Homo sapiens: one gene and its partner. The protein of the gene in region 2 interacts with the protein of the main gene of each other region in a pairwise test. Each region holds a gene or a part of one and is shown on either strand. Other genes may lie near its edges.

The links.
Region 1: the proteins of ABHD15 (region 2) and WTAP interact in binary tests that used the Homo sapiens proteins (3 or more experiments, as listed by UniProt).

The regions. Positions count from the first base shown.
Region 1 is NC_000006.12:159,737,504-159,744,526, forward strand, and holds part of WTAP (pre-mRNA-splicing regulator WTAP), read left to right. Parts: intron 1-1,486; coding exon 1,487-1,542; intron 1,543-2,355; exon of another isoform or gene 2,356-3,939; coding exon of another isoform or gene 3,940-3,944; intron 3,945-4,584; coding exon 4,585-4,643; intron 4,644-6,161; coding exon 6,162-6,289; intron 6,290-7,023. UniProt on the Homo sapiens protein: Associated component of the WMM complex, a complex that mediates N6-methyladenosine (m6A) methylation of RNAs, a modification that plays a role in the efficiency of mRNA splicing and RNA processing.
Region 2 is NC_000017.11:29,564,022-29,571,621, forward strand, and holds the start of ABHD15 (protein ABHD15 precursor), read right to left. Parts: upstream 3,017-7,600; 5' UTR 2,946-3,016; coding exon 2,065-2,945; intron 1-2,064. Other genes in the region: TP53I13 (tumor protein p53-inducible protein 13), read left to right, coding at 4,738-4,809, 4,997-5,065, 5,297-5,338, 7,570-7,600. UniProt on the Homo sapiens protein: May regulate adipocyte lipolysis and liver lipid accumulation.

The DNA of each region.
Region 1 (7,023 bases), on a different chromosome or scaffold from region 2:
TATTTTCTGAGACAGAGTCTCACTCTGTTGCCCATGCTGGAGTGCAGTGGTACAATCTTGGCTCATTGTGGCCTCATACCCCAGCTTATGCGATCCTCCCACCTTTGCCCCCCAAAGTAGCTCAGACTACAGGTGTGCCACTACGCCTGGCTAATTTTTGTATTTTTTGGTAGAGATGGGGTTTTGCCATGTTACCCAGGCTGATCTTGAACTCCCGAGTTCAAGATATACTCCCGCCTCAGTCTCCCAAAGTGCAGGAGGCATGAGCCACAATGCCCAGCCAAAGCCTTAATTTTATACTGAGGTAGGAGAGGTATCTCACCTTTACAGCCTTTATTTGGTGTAGTGAATATACTGTTTCTCAATTTTTGAAGCATGTTAGCTTATGCCCTTCTTTCAGCTTTTTGTTTTGAAATAATTATAGATTCATAGGAAGTTGCAAATAAATGTACAGAGAGGTTCTGTGCAACTTTCACTGAGCCTGCTTCATTGTTAACACCTTGCGTGACTAGCAGACATCTCTAATAACTGTGAAAATCAGGGAATTGACATTGGTACAATCCACAGAGCTTATTCACATTTCACGTTATACTAGCACTGTTATTGGGGGAAGTGGGGAAGAGCTATATGCACTATTATCATGTCTAGCTTTGTGTAACCATCATTAATCAAGATACATATCTGAACTATCACCATAAAGCTTCATCGAGTTATTCTTTTATAGCCACATCTACCCCGTCCCTCTCCATGCCTGACCCCTGGCAACCACTAATTTATCTCCATTTGTATAATTGTTACTTCAGAGTGTTATATAAATGTAATCATGTAGTATGCATCTTTTTGAGACTATTTTTTTTCCTTCCACTTAGCACAGTTTCCTTAAGGCTTATACAAATTGTTTCATGTATCAGTAGTCCTGTTTCTTTTTATTGCTTAAAGTGTTCCATGGTGTGGCTGTATGATAGTTCAATCATTTGCCTGTTAAAGGACATTTGGATAGTTTTCAGTTTTTTAGCTTTTACAAGTAAAGCTGCTTGCATGTTTTCATTTCTTTGAGATACATGTTTAAGAGTGCAACTGCTGAGTTATATGGCACATTCATTTTTAGTTGTATTAATAAAAGGAACTGCCATACTTCTTCAGATACCATTTTTATATTCTCACCTGCAGTGTAGGAAACTTCAGTTTCTCTGAATCCTCACCAGCGTTTGGTGTTGCCACTAATTTTTATTTTAGCCATTCTAATCAGTGTGTGGTGATACCTGGGGTTTTAATGTGCATTTTCCTAATGATGATGCCCATTGTTAAGATACCAAATAGTTTACCTTAAAAAAAAAAAACTTTTGTAATAAAATACTTTTTCAAAAAATCATAATATGTACTGAGCCGTTTAAATCTCACACTTGGGAGATGTTTCATAGGTCTCATTATAGAACTTTGTGTCTTCAGGAAGAACACTAAATTCATATTGTAATTCTCTTTATAGGTTCGATTGAGTGAAACAGACTTCAAAGTTATGGCAAGAGATGAGTTAATTCTAAGGTAAAATGTTCTCTGTTCAAAAACAAAGTCTTTCTATAGAACATTATATTGTGACTCTACACTGTAATTGTCTTTGTGCCAGATATTGTTTTTAATGTTGTTCTATCCTCAAATAATTTAATGTACTTTTTGAGCATACTATGACCTATTTCTTATATTAACACCGAGGAAAACGTAACACTTTAAAGAACTACTAGGAAGCTATAAGTTTAACAAATATATGGCTTGTTTTGTGTAGTTTTTCCTTTCGTGTTTAACATTTGAAAAAGAAATGTAATCCTAAAAGATGCACTTATATTTATGGAAGAAATACATAATTTACTAATGAAGTGAGGTTACTTTTTCTTATTAGTGTGACCTTCACCAGCTCATATAACTTCATACTCTTCATTTTCTCATCTGTAAGTTGAAGAGGTTGGGTTAAGTTATTGTTAAAGGTGACTTCCAGTTCTGAATTTCTGCGGTTATCTTGTAAATGTCTTACAAAAGCAGATTGTCAAGTACAACGTATAATCTTTTTAGATTGTGTAAGAAATCAGGAAGTAGGATGTTCTGTGTTTTGTAATTTAAATATATTCTTTCTGTATTTTATTGCTATGGTTAGTAAGTTTCTTGATAACTTAGATAAAAATAAAATAAGTATTTTAACAGGCTGAAAGCGGAGGAGAGAAAAGATGTTTTGTGAGATAGGCTAACACAGATTTTGTTGTTTCCTAGAGTGTGACAATTTCCTACTTTCACCTTTGGACAGCTACTGTATTATGAACACACTTTTTACCTTTTTTTTTTTTTTTTTTTTTTTTTTTTTTTTTGCCATAATCTCATACATAGGACAGTTTCCATTGCATACCTTTGTCTTTCTGCACATAAAATTTAAATTTTTGTTATTCTAAAACACTTCTGTCTTATGCTGAAGTATATACTTAAGATACACTACTACTCAATGCTGGGTTTTTTTTTGTTTGTTTTAATGTGCATATAAATTATAATAGAGGTGAGGTGCTGCTCAGGCTGGTCTTGAATGCCTGGCCTGAAGTGATTCTCTCACCTTGGCCTCCCAAAGTGCTGGGATTACAGGCATGGGCCACCATGCCTGGCCATGATTTTTTTTTTCCCTGTCTCTGGCATTGTATACTTTTTTTAATGCCTTCTTACATAATTGCTCTGGTTAGTCTGTGCAGTCATTTTTTTGATTTAACTGTAGGAGGGGAAAAATCAGTAATCTTAATAAAGAATCATAGAAATGTTTTATTTTAAGATACCTTTAAGGTTTCTAAATCATATGCAGTGTATTTCCTTGAGGTCAGTTTAACATCTTTCCTTAGGGAATTCATGTAAGACTTTTAGGCGAGTTTTTTCTCTTTGATTCCCTTGGAGATTTTAAACCAGCTGCTACTTATTTAACTAGTCTGTGCCTTCTATCCTTGTGATATACATGTTCTTGCTTCAGTTTTTATATTTTTCTGTACTTCTAAAATAAATCGTTCTTTTATAGCCTCCACTGAAGATCTTTCTCTATACATCCCCAAATATTTGGTAAACTACGTGTCTTAGGTTGTAAGTGCCGTAAAAATAAAGCATGGCCTTGGCTGAACATCAGTGTTTACATAGAAAGTGGATTAGTTTGGTATTAGGAAGGTTTTTTTTTTTTCTTTTTTCTTTCTTTTTTTTTTTTTTAAGACAGAGTCTCGCTCTGTCACCAGGCTGGAATGCAGTTGCGCGATCTCGGCTCACTGCAACCGCCGCCTCCCGGTCAAGCGGTTCTCCTGCCTCAGCCTCCCAAGTAGCTGGGACTACGGGCATGCGCCACCATGCCCTGCTAATTTTTTTGTATTTTCAGTAGAGACGGGATTTCACTGTGTTGGCCAGGATGGTCTTGATTTCTTGACCTCATGATCTGCCCGCCTCGGCCTCCCAAAGTGCTGGGATTACAGGCACGAGCCTTTTTGTTCATTATGTTGTAATATTAATAACTCATGACAAGCCTGTTTTTAAGATTATAAAATGGTTTTCTAAAGCCAAATTTTAATTAATTGTACCTGAAGAGCAGCTTGAAAACATGGCTCTTAAGTATGCAGGATAGCAGACATTCAGGGCAGGGTGCTTTCCATTAGGAACTGCCTAATAAGACTAGGAAAAATCTTTATTGCTAAGAGGACCTAGCAGTGTATATATTCAGGGTAGAGAAGTATAATGAAGAACAACGGTCCCCTTGTATTCTGATAGCATATGGCATTTATGCAGGTTTCTGACAGTTAGATGTGATTGTTAAATTACAGTCTTGAAAAATGTTATATTCTCCCCCTGTGTTTACAGGCAGAAATTGATACTACCTTGAGAAGAGTCACATGGTATTTTCCCAAAAGAGCCAAGATAAAGAACCTTCAATTCTACATAATGAGGCACATTTCTAATATGCCTTTTGTTCTAAGTGGACAACATATGAAAGCAGCAGTGGGATTTTTTTTTCAGCTTCTATAATCCAGGATTATCCTGAACATCAGTGATATCAAAGTGAATCTGGGGTTTGATCTCACCCAGGGCATGCTTGGCATGTTCTCAGCAGAAAAAACCTTCTCTATATATCTCTTTTTACCTGTTTCCTGTAAAATGGGAAGGAATAATGAGGGACTATTTTATGATCAGTTAAACTAGATTTAGGCTGGGTGTGGTGACTCAGGCCTGTAATTTCAGCAGTTTGGGAGGCCAGGGTGTGAGGATCATTTGAGCTCGGGAGTTCAAGACCAGCCTGGGCAACGTAGTGAGACCCCATCTCTACAAAAAAATGAGCCATGTGCCTTTGGTCCCAGCTATACAGGAAGCTGAGGCAGGGACATCGCTTGAGCCCAGACCCTGTTTGCGCCACGCTGCACTCCAGCCTGGGGGACAGAGCGAGACTCTGTCTAAAAAAAACTAGATTTAAAATGAAAAATCCAGAAGAATGCTCAGTATTACTAAAATCTGTGAGTTTATAGATATCTTCTAGTTTATTTAATAAACTATTTTATCGTAACAACTAATGTATGGATTTTTTTTTATTAGATGGAAACAATATGAAGCATATGTACAAGCTTTGGAGGGCAAGTACACAGATCTTAACTGTAAGTTTGAGTTTTAGCTTCCTAAAGACTGAATAATCTCCTTTTGATTGTTAAAATCAAAAGGATAGTTGTTTTTATTAAAGCAAATGTAATTTTTCTCGTGTTTTATTATAAGAACTGTACATAGGCACTGTGTTGGGTGCAAGAAAATATAAAGATGAATGAGACACAGTCTCAGTCATTGGAGAAGACAGAGGTGTAATAGTCATGTAATGGCATGACTTAGCAAAATTATATGCAAGGTTCTGAATATAGATGCAGTAACTCAGAACTACTTGAAACTTTTCTTACTTGTCCCTAACCCCTTCTGCATAGGAATTTGACTTGAAGCATGAGTTACTAGTCTAGAAGAGAAATAAACAGAAGCAACCAGTAACAGATTTATGACAGCTTAAATCAATATATATAACTTAATAATATATACAGATTTTTTTAAATCTGCTGAAAATAACGTTTATCATTTTAAGCCATTTTAGTCTCACTTTTTACTGTTTGAATCACATACTATTTGTTGAGTATAAAAACCAATATATATTGTTTTGTAACTTCAGAAGGGTTAATACCCTGAAATTCTAATTTTGCGTGACTGTGTTACCCATAGAAGTCATGAACATTGTGAAAGTTTAAGGCTAGGCACAGTGGCTCACACCTATAATCCCAGCACTTTGGGAGGCCAAGGTGGGAAGATCACTTGAGCCCAGGAGTTTGAGACCAGCATAGGCAACATAGGGAGACCTTGTCTCTACAAAAAAAAAAAGAGTCAGGAGGATCACTAGAGCCCGGGAGGTCAAGGCTGCTGCAGTGAGCCCTGATTGTGCCACTGGACTCCTGCCTGGGTAACAGAATAAGATCCTGCCTCAAGTTTAAAATACAAATTGTCCAGCAGTTATTACTATTTTATTTATTTATTTGTTTGTTTGAGACAGGGTCTCGCACTGTTGCCCAGGCTGGAGTGCAGTGGCACAATCTGGGCTTAGTGCAACCTCTGCCTCCCAGGTTCAAGTCATTGACCTGCCTCAGCCTCCCAAGTAGCTGGGATTACAGACATGCATCACCACGACTGGCTAATTTTGTATTTTTAGTAGAGACGGTGTTTCACCGTGTTGGTTAGGCTGGTCTGAAACTCCTGACCTCAGGTGATCTACCTGCCTCAGCCTCCCAAAGTGCTGGGATTACAGGCGTGAGCCTCTGTGCCCAGACAGCATTTTTATATTAAATAGGTTAAAACATACTAATCAGGATTTTGTGAATACTGTATAACACAGATGTTTTCTGTCTTCTGTTGGGAGTAGATGAAACTATAAAAACATAATTTAGTTAGTAGTCATGGAGCACTATGACACCATTGTCTCCTAAAGGAGCTCTCGTGACCAGGAAGAAATTCGCCTGTTATAAAAGTAGTTAGGATGGAAACTAAAGACTTGATTAATTTTTTGACCCTAGTTCTTATTGTTCTTGACAGAGGTATTTAGAACTTGATCTTAAAATTGTATTTATAATTTTTTTTTGAATCATCAGCTAATGATGTAACTGGCCTAAGAGAGTCTGAAGAAAAACTAAAGCAACAACAGCAGGAGTCTGCACGCAGGGAAAACATCCTTGTAATGCGACTAGCAACCAAGGAACAAGAGATGCAAGAGTGTACTGTAAGTATTTCAAGTTATATAAATGTCTTTAGTTGAGGAATTGGTTTTTAGTCCACATTATTACATGTTAATTTTAAACATTTAATGCTAAATATAAGAGCTTATCTTTTATAGGTACGTATGCTTTGAGCTTTAAGAATACTAGATGAAAAATTTTGATAATGTCTCATTTAGACTGTTTTTTGTGGCCAAGAAGGCAAAGTTTTAAGTTTTTTTTGAAATTTTCATGCCTTATAAGTATTAGTTCATCAATTCCAGACATTTTTCAGATATCTTGGTGTCTGAGGATGTAATCAATAAAAGAACATTTGCTCTTTATTGCTTTACTTTCACTGATTAGGAAAGCCATCTGAGGACTTTATCTCTGTTCTCTTGTCCCCTCTGTGTATAGAACTGTTTTTCCTAGTGTCAGCAACCTCTTTAGTGTCTCCTTTTTAATTGTTAGAACTTTGATGTGTACTGTGTAGTATTTACTATGTCTACGTAGATCTGAAATCTAGTGACATAATTGATCATCCAGCTCTGGTAGTTTAGGCTCAATCTTACGGTGTAATTATACAAAATAATTAGAGGCAGCTGTATCCTTGTTTCTGATTTTAAAATCTGAATGTTTCTTCAATTCTTTGTGTACTCTCCCTTCATTTGGTACATATAGAAGTCTTCTTATGTGTTATTAAAGTCTTCTAAGATAGTATTCTGGTCATTGGAGACACCAAAAATCTATGGGCACAGTC
Region 2 (7,600 bases):
AGGCCTGTCATTCACAGCATCACTGCACCTGTCTATGTGCCCTAGGGGCAGCATTTGACTTCACAGCTGCTGACAGTTCTCCTAACCTCAACTTCTGGCCCTCTGTGGAGAACTTGCTATGAACTGTAACCTACTAAACTGCTCCTAGAAGAACTTGCTGCTCAGAGTATCCAAACCAGCAGGTGACACCTCTGCTAATAATTCACATTTGACTTTAGGTTGCATTCATTGTTTTTATTTTTGCTTTTTAAACTAACATCCTGTCCTGGTAATGTCACATGAGTGTGATGTTGATCAGGTATACCTGGGGCAGATATTCCTAGAGAGTGTGCTGCCTGGCAGAGGAAGCAATTGAGTTGGTCATTAATTTACTGGGTGGATTCCTAAATGGGGGCCTCAGAGCAACTGCTTTGGGTAACAGGGAACATCTTTGCTGTTTCTAGACCCCTGGAGAGGGCTTGGCATCCTGACAAGGAGGCCAGGATGAGCAGCTCCGTCTTTTGAATAGCTCAATCCAGCCTCAGACAGTTGAAATTAGATGTTAATCTCTGACCAGGCATAGTGGCTCACATCTATAATCCCAGCACTTTGGGAGGCCAAGGCGGGTGGATTCCCTGAGTCTAGACATTCAAGACCAGCCTGGACAACATGGCACAATCCCATCTTTATGAAAAATACAAAAATTAACCGGGCATGGTGGCATGTGCCTGTAGTCTCAGCTACTCGGGAGGCTGAGGTGGGGGTCTGGCCCCCACATCCCAGGTCTTTCTGCTACACCACACTGTTGCCATAATGACTTCGACCTCATTCTGCCATCTCCTAAGAAAGCCAGAGTGCAGGCTAGGAATGTCACCTGAGCCCAGGAACTCAAGGCTGCAATGAGTGGTGATTCCACCACTGCACTCCAGCCTGGGCGACAGAGTAAGATCTTGCCTCAAAAAACAAACAAACAGCTGGGCACGGTGGCTCACACCTGTAATCCTAGCACTTTGAAAGCTGGGGCAGGCGGATCACTTGACATTAGGGGTTCCAGACCAGCCTGGCAAACATGGAGAAACCCCGTCTCTACCAAAAAAAATATTAAAAATTAGCTGGGTGTGGTGGTGCACGCCTGTAGTCCCCAGCCACTTCAGAGGCTAAGGCAGGAGAATAGCTTGCACCCAGGAGGTGGAGGTTACAGTGAGCCGAGATCATGTCACTACACTTCAGCCTGGGTGACAAAGTGAGACTGTCTAAAAAAAAAAATACTTTTAAAAAATAATAATTTTAATAAATGCCTACATATATGCGTGTGTGTGTATATATATATATAACATTTTTTTTTGAGACAGGGTGTTGCTCTGTCACCCAGGCTAGAGTGCAGTGGCCTGACCAGGGCTCTCTGCAGCCTCGAACTTCTGGGCTTCGGTGATCCTCCCATCTCAACCTCCTGAGTAGCTGGGACCACAGATGCATGCCACCACACCCGGCTAATTAAAAAAAGAAATTTTTGTAGAGACAGGTTTTCCTATGTTGCCCAAGTTAGTCTCAAACTCTTGGGCTCAAGTGATCCTCCTGCCTTGGCCTCCCAAAGTGCTGGGATTACAGGCGGGAGCCACTGCACCTGGCCTCAAATGCCACCATATTTCTGATTCCTGTCACCTCCAGGCTCAGAGACTGTGAGTAAACATTCTGGGCAGATAATCGTTTGCAATTGCTTCCAGAGTGCTCTTTGCTGAGCTGTTAAGCTGTGGGCTAAGTGGTAAATGTCAGGTATCTCTGCTGTCGTGGGCCAGGTGCTCAGATTGCTAGGATACAGCAGGGGGTGCCGAGATGAGGCAAGGGGCCGGGTTAGGAGTCCCTGCTCTAGCACAGCGATACTAGCTGAGTCCATCGATGACCTTTAAACCCGCTTCCCCGGTTCTGTCTAGATTACAGGGTTTGGAAGGCTTTGGAAGATGTGTTCAGAGAACTTTGCCCAAACTGGCCCACGCCTGTTCCAATGCTATGCATAGCTGTTTCTGATTCTTAGCCAGCTCAGGCCCTCTATTCTTTCCATGCTGGTCTGCGGCCTCCGTTACCCACCTGCTGAGGGCGATCTTCTGGTGGAGCAGAAAGCCCCGCTCGTAGGGCCAGGGCAGGCCGGCCTCGAACCACTCTCGGCAGCGCAGCACGGGCGAGATGCAGGCGGCGCCTGTCACGTAGCTGGAGGAGCCGCACTCGCCCAGGTAGGACAGGAGCAGCGCCGAGCCCGAGCCTTCGCTCACCGCGAACAGCGGCGCCGCCGGGTGTCGGAAGCGGATGTATGTGACCGCCTCCTTGAGGTCGGACGGGTCCCCGAAAGGCTGCAGCCGGGGGCTGACCAGTGGGCAACCGTGGTGGCCGCGGCGATGGAAGATGACCGGGTAGTAGCCGCGCTCCAGGGCGAGCAAGCAAAGGCCGAGCACGTTGCGGGTGAGGCGACCCCACGCATTGGGGATCACCAGAAGCACCGCAGGAAGGCCCCCGGCGCTGGTGATCCGGCGGCCCCGAACACAAGGTCCTACCACCCAGTCCAGGGCCACTAGCCCATCGTCCGCCAACTGCAGGTACTCCCGGGCCAGCTCAGGCCCAGGCGCTACGGGCAGGACGAAGTGGCAGAGGGTCTGCAGGTGGGGCCCGGAGAACCAGGAGCGCGGGCCGGCCTCCAGCGCCTCTGAGCGCCGCAGGGCGCGCAGCAGGCACTGGGCCAGGGCCGACGGCTTGCAAACAAGGCTGCACCCTCCCGGCAGTGGCTCGCGCCCGTCGCTGAACTGGTCCGCCGGGCCTCCGCCGTCCGCCTCCTCCCCGTCGTCTCGGTCTTGGGCCCCCGGCAGGGTCCTCTCTCCGACGGCGCGCCCCCAGGGTCCCCGGAGCCGCGGGCCGAGCAGGCCGAGAAGGGCGAGCACGGCCAAGATGAGCGCGAGGGCGGCGCCCCACGGCGGCATGGCGAAGCTGGAGAGCCCCGGCGGGCAGCGGGCGGCGGGGCCGTCTACTCGGCGAGCTCCGCGCTTTGCCCGCGGCTCCGCCCGCCGGCGGCGGCTGCCCAGGGCCCTCCCGCGCGGGCGCGCTCTGGATTGGCCGTGGCCGGGCAGAGGCAGCCAGTTCGGGCCCGGCTGCCCTCGCCCGCCCCCCACCCCCGCCCCGGCCCTTTGTACAGCAATTGCAACAAGTGGGAGCAGAGGGTGAGAGGAGCCGGGGCCACCAGGGAGGGAGGGCGCGCCGGCAGCCGGAAGGGAGTGGGGAGGGCACGAGCCGGGGAGAGCGGTGTTGGCCATGGAGACGTGGGGAGACTGGAGGCCGAGGCTTGGGGACCCGACTGTCATCAGGGTCTTCCGCCAGACCCTGGGCGCTGCGCCCTCAGAGGCCGATGAAAAGAAGCAGAAGGGAGAGGTGAGTAAGTCGCAGCTCCGGGCGCCGGCTCCCGGGACCCCGTGGGGCGGCGGCCGCGCGCGCGCTCTGCCCTCGGGCGGCCCTGCTCTCCCCCGCCCGGCCCCGCAACCCCGCAATAACTTGGCTGGGCGGGGTCCGGCACTGGGCTAGAGAGGTCGAGCGCGGCGTCTTGAGCCGCTGGCGGGAGGCTGCTGCTTCCCCGCCTGCATCAGTGCGGGTCCCGTGGACTCCTCGCCCCCGTCCCCGCGAGCTCGGGGCTCCACATCAAGGAAATCCTCAGCCCGGGAGTGGCTTCCCCAGAAACAGCAGCCCCAAGCCTCCGAGAGTCAGTCGGAGAAAAGGACACACTCAGGCGCCCTGCGACAGGGATGCCCGTCCGACCTACAAGGAACGCCTCGTAAACCGGGGTGCATGGGAGACCACGGAAATAACACGTTCTCGCTGTTTCCAAGCTTTGGGATAGGCATCTCGACCCTCGCTCTCTACCCACGTTTCCCCCCCAAATCCTGGAGAGGGAACCAGAACCAGCGCCCCGCTGCGGGGCGGGCCGGCCAGCGCACCTCCTGGGGGTGAGGCCTGTGGCGTCCCCATCTCGCGGCGACCAATCTCTTTCTAGACGCGCGCCTGCCACCGCTGGGCGACGGCGGAGGTGGGGAAGACAGCAGCCTCTCGGCTAGCTCCGGCCTCCCGGGGCTTCTGGGTTTGGAGAGTTTGGGGAGCGGAGACACCTCCCGAGGCTCCTCCGCGTTGGACCCTATTTGCGAGGGCGGGAGCGGGGTGGGCCGACGGCGAAGCTCCAGAGGTGGGACCCTCTCCCTTCAGCAGCTCTTCCTGACTTCATGATTCTGCCCCTCTTCTCATTGCAGGTCACACCGACAAATCTGAAGCGGGTTTGCCAGGGGAGTGTACCCGTCTCCCCAGCCTGGGCCACCCGGTCCACAGGGATTCCATTTCCGGCCTTACACTCCGCTCCACGATCTCATCCAGGCGCTGCAGCTGTGCAGCTGCTCTACAGACTGCAGGGACCTGCTGAGACGAATCCCCGGACGAGGAAAGGGGCCCCCCGCCTGCCCTACTGAGCCTTGCGCGCTGACCCGGTTCCTACACTTAACTTTTCCGGCTTCGGGTTTAAGACGCGTGCGCGCACACTCCGCTGCTGTGGGCGGGCATTGGGGCGGGGCGATACCGGGGGCCCACTGTCTGGGGAGGGGCGCGCGCGAGCCCAGGGCCAACGGACGCGCGGGCGGCGCGGGCGGCGCGGGGGCGCTGGGGCTGGAGGGGCGGGGCGCGCGCGCTCCCTCGCTGGCGGAGCGGCTGGGCGGCGGGCCGGGCCCGGGGCCGCTTGGAATGGCGCCTCCTCCGCCTTCGCCCCAACTGCTTCTCCTGGCAGCCCTCGCGAGGCTCCTGGGTCCCAGCGAGGTAAGGTGACCCGCTCCTGGGAAGGCCTCGGCCCGCGAGCTCAAAGCGCTTTGCCAAAAGTTCGTCCTGGAAGGAGTGGCGCGCCGAGGGGGACGCGGAGTTCTTCCGCTGGCGGGCTGGGCCTGGGGAGAGAGAGGGCAGGGCCTCGCCGCGTCCAGCGCCCCAACTCTTCGCTTTGGACCCACAGGTGATGGCTGGACCGGCGGAGGAGGCGGGAGCCCATTGTCCCGAGAGCCTGTGGCCTCTGCCTCCGCAGGTAGGAGCCCTGGAGGGCCCAGGGAGAGAGGGATGTGAAAGGCTAGCCCAGTCCCGCTCTGTTCTCGCCGCACCCTCCACAGTCACCATCTGAGGACCTCTGCCGGTTCCTCAGTCCTCAGTAGCCAACTTCTCCATCCCAGCCTGGCGCTTGGGGCCTGCCGTCCCCTCCCCACCACACACACACGGAGTCCCCCAACTGCCCTAAGCTCTGTTCTTTCCCCATGTATAGGTGTCACCAAGAGTGACCTACACACGAGTGAGCCCAGGGCAGGTGAGTACAAGCAGGGGCCCACCACCCTTGGTGTCCACGCCTGGAGACAGGCGCTCCTAGCAGGCTTCGCTGCCTGTTCTGCTGATCGGCCCCATTCCTTACCACTTCCCTCAGGCAGAGGCAGGGTTCTAGTTCTCTGCCCCACCTCCAAGCCCAGGACAGATCAGCCCCAGGACAGATGGCTCAAAGACAGTGAGCCATAGGCCTGTCATCTGCAATGCTGTGTCAGGATGCTGTTGGGTAGCTGGCTCTGTGGACAAGTGGCTGTGAGTGGAACTCTCTCTGAGAGTAGCTGGAAAAAACCCAGGCTCCAGCTCCCTGAGGAGACAGCGGGAAGTCTCCTGACTTTGTGGGCCCCAGCTTTCTGTAGGAGAGGGTATTAATTCTGTCTCTACCTGTGAGCAGCGAGGGAGGGTATGTGCCAGCACCGTGTACAGTACAGAGCTGCATCGTGCAAGGAGTGTGCCTCCAGTTGCCAGGCTCCACACTGCGGGCTCAGCTTGCGTGGTAGCATCTCCATCTTCATCGCCAGCTCCTCTGAATTTTCCTTTGAAATACTTATTATTATTATTATTTGAAATGGAATCTCACTCTGTTGCCCAGGCTGGAGTGCAGTGGCACTCACTGCAACCTCTGCCTCCAGGTTCAAGCAATTCTTATGCCACAGCCTCCCGAGCAGCTGGGATTACAGGCGTGTGCCACCTAGCTTAGCTAATTTTGTATTTTTAGTAGAGACGAGGTTTCACCATGTTGCCCACGCTGGTCTTGAGCTCCTGACCTCAAGTGATCTGCCTGCCTCAGCCTCCCAAGTGCTGGGATTACAGGTGTGAGCCACCATGCCTGGCCTGAAATACCTAACTTAAATTGGCCAGGCATGGTGGCTCACACCTGTAATCCCAGTACTTTAGGAGGCTGAGGCGGGTGGAACACCTGAGGTCAGGAGTTCAAGACCAGCTTGGCCAACATGGTGAAACCCTGTCTCTACTAAAAATACAAAAATTAGCTGGGCGTGGTGGCACACCCCTGTAATCCCAGCTACTTGGGAGGCTGAGGCAGGAGAATTGCTTGAGCCCAGGAGGCAGAGGTTGCAGTGAGCCGAGACCATGCCACTGCACTCCAGCCTGGCGACAGAGCGAGACTGTCTCAAAAAAAAAAAAAAATTCTCTGTAATAGCTCCAGGCCAAGAGTTGTTGCCTCACGCCACCTATCAGATTCCTTTCCTCAAACAGCCCTTTCATGAAGTCATTCCTCTGTTCACAAACTGTCAATGGCTCCTTATTTCCCACCTTATCGTGGCCATATTCTCCGGCCTGGCTTTTCAGGCCTTACTTAAGTAAGCTTCGTCTGACCTCTCCACATCCTTGGTTCCTCTCCAGTTGTGTCGGGCTGTTTGCCACACAAATGAGTGCCAGCCTCGCCCTTACCACAGCCCCTTTGCTCCTGTTTATTCTCCTCCACACCTGGCCTATCCTGACTCGGAGAGTGCAGCTCCCTGCCCTCCTGCCATACTCCCCCAGCCATCTTCCCAGTCCCAGCTGGCATCAGCTCCCCCTGAGACACTGCCCGATGGCATCAGCCTTTATTCCTCCCCTCCTCCTCTGAATCTATCTCTGATAATTTAACAACTAATCACTAAGTTTTATTAGTTTGCTGTTTTATTTGCATTAGTTGTTTCCCTGAGTTTCTCACACACTCCTTGCAAGCAGAGTCCAGGAGTTCTTTGGCATCTCCCACAGCATCTAGCACAGCACTGAGCACCAAGTCAACTCAATCAAAGAATAATGAATGATTGATGGAGTATTTCCATCCTGAGATTGTGCACCTGCTGCCTGCCTGCCCTGTATTTGGATGCTCTTGGGAGACTGTATAGATTGGATCGATGGTCTTCATTTGGGGGTTGCTTATGGCTTGGATTGTGGACCTGTAGAGCCATCGTTACACCTGCAGGGAAATATGGCTAGAGTGTGGTCTGAGTCTGGCAGGATTATCCAGGCATGCTGTGAGCTTTGAAGGGTGGCACTTGATGGAGAGGAAGGGTGAAAGGAACACTCAGAGGCAAGAGTGGGTACATGCCAATACCCAGGGCCCTTTGTCCTTTCCTGGGCCCTGAAGGTAGAAGAGCCATCCAGCTATCCTGGGAGTACCTTTAAACTGGTCCCCTGGATGGGAGAACTTGAGATTCTCTGGGAGGGCTCTGGGCCTGCTTTGATGTCTCTGTGCCTTTCCTCCAGGCTGAGGATGTCACCTTCCTCTACCACCCCT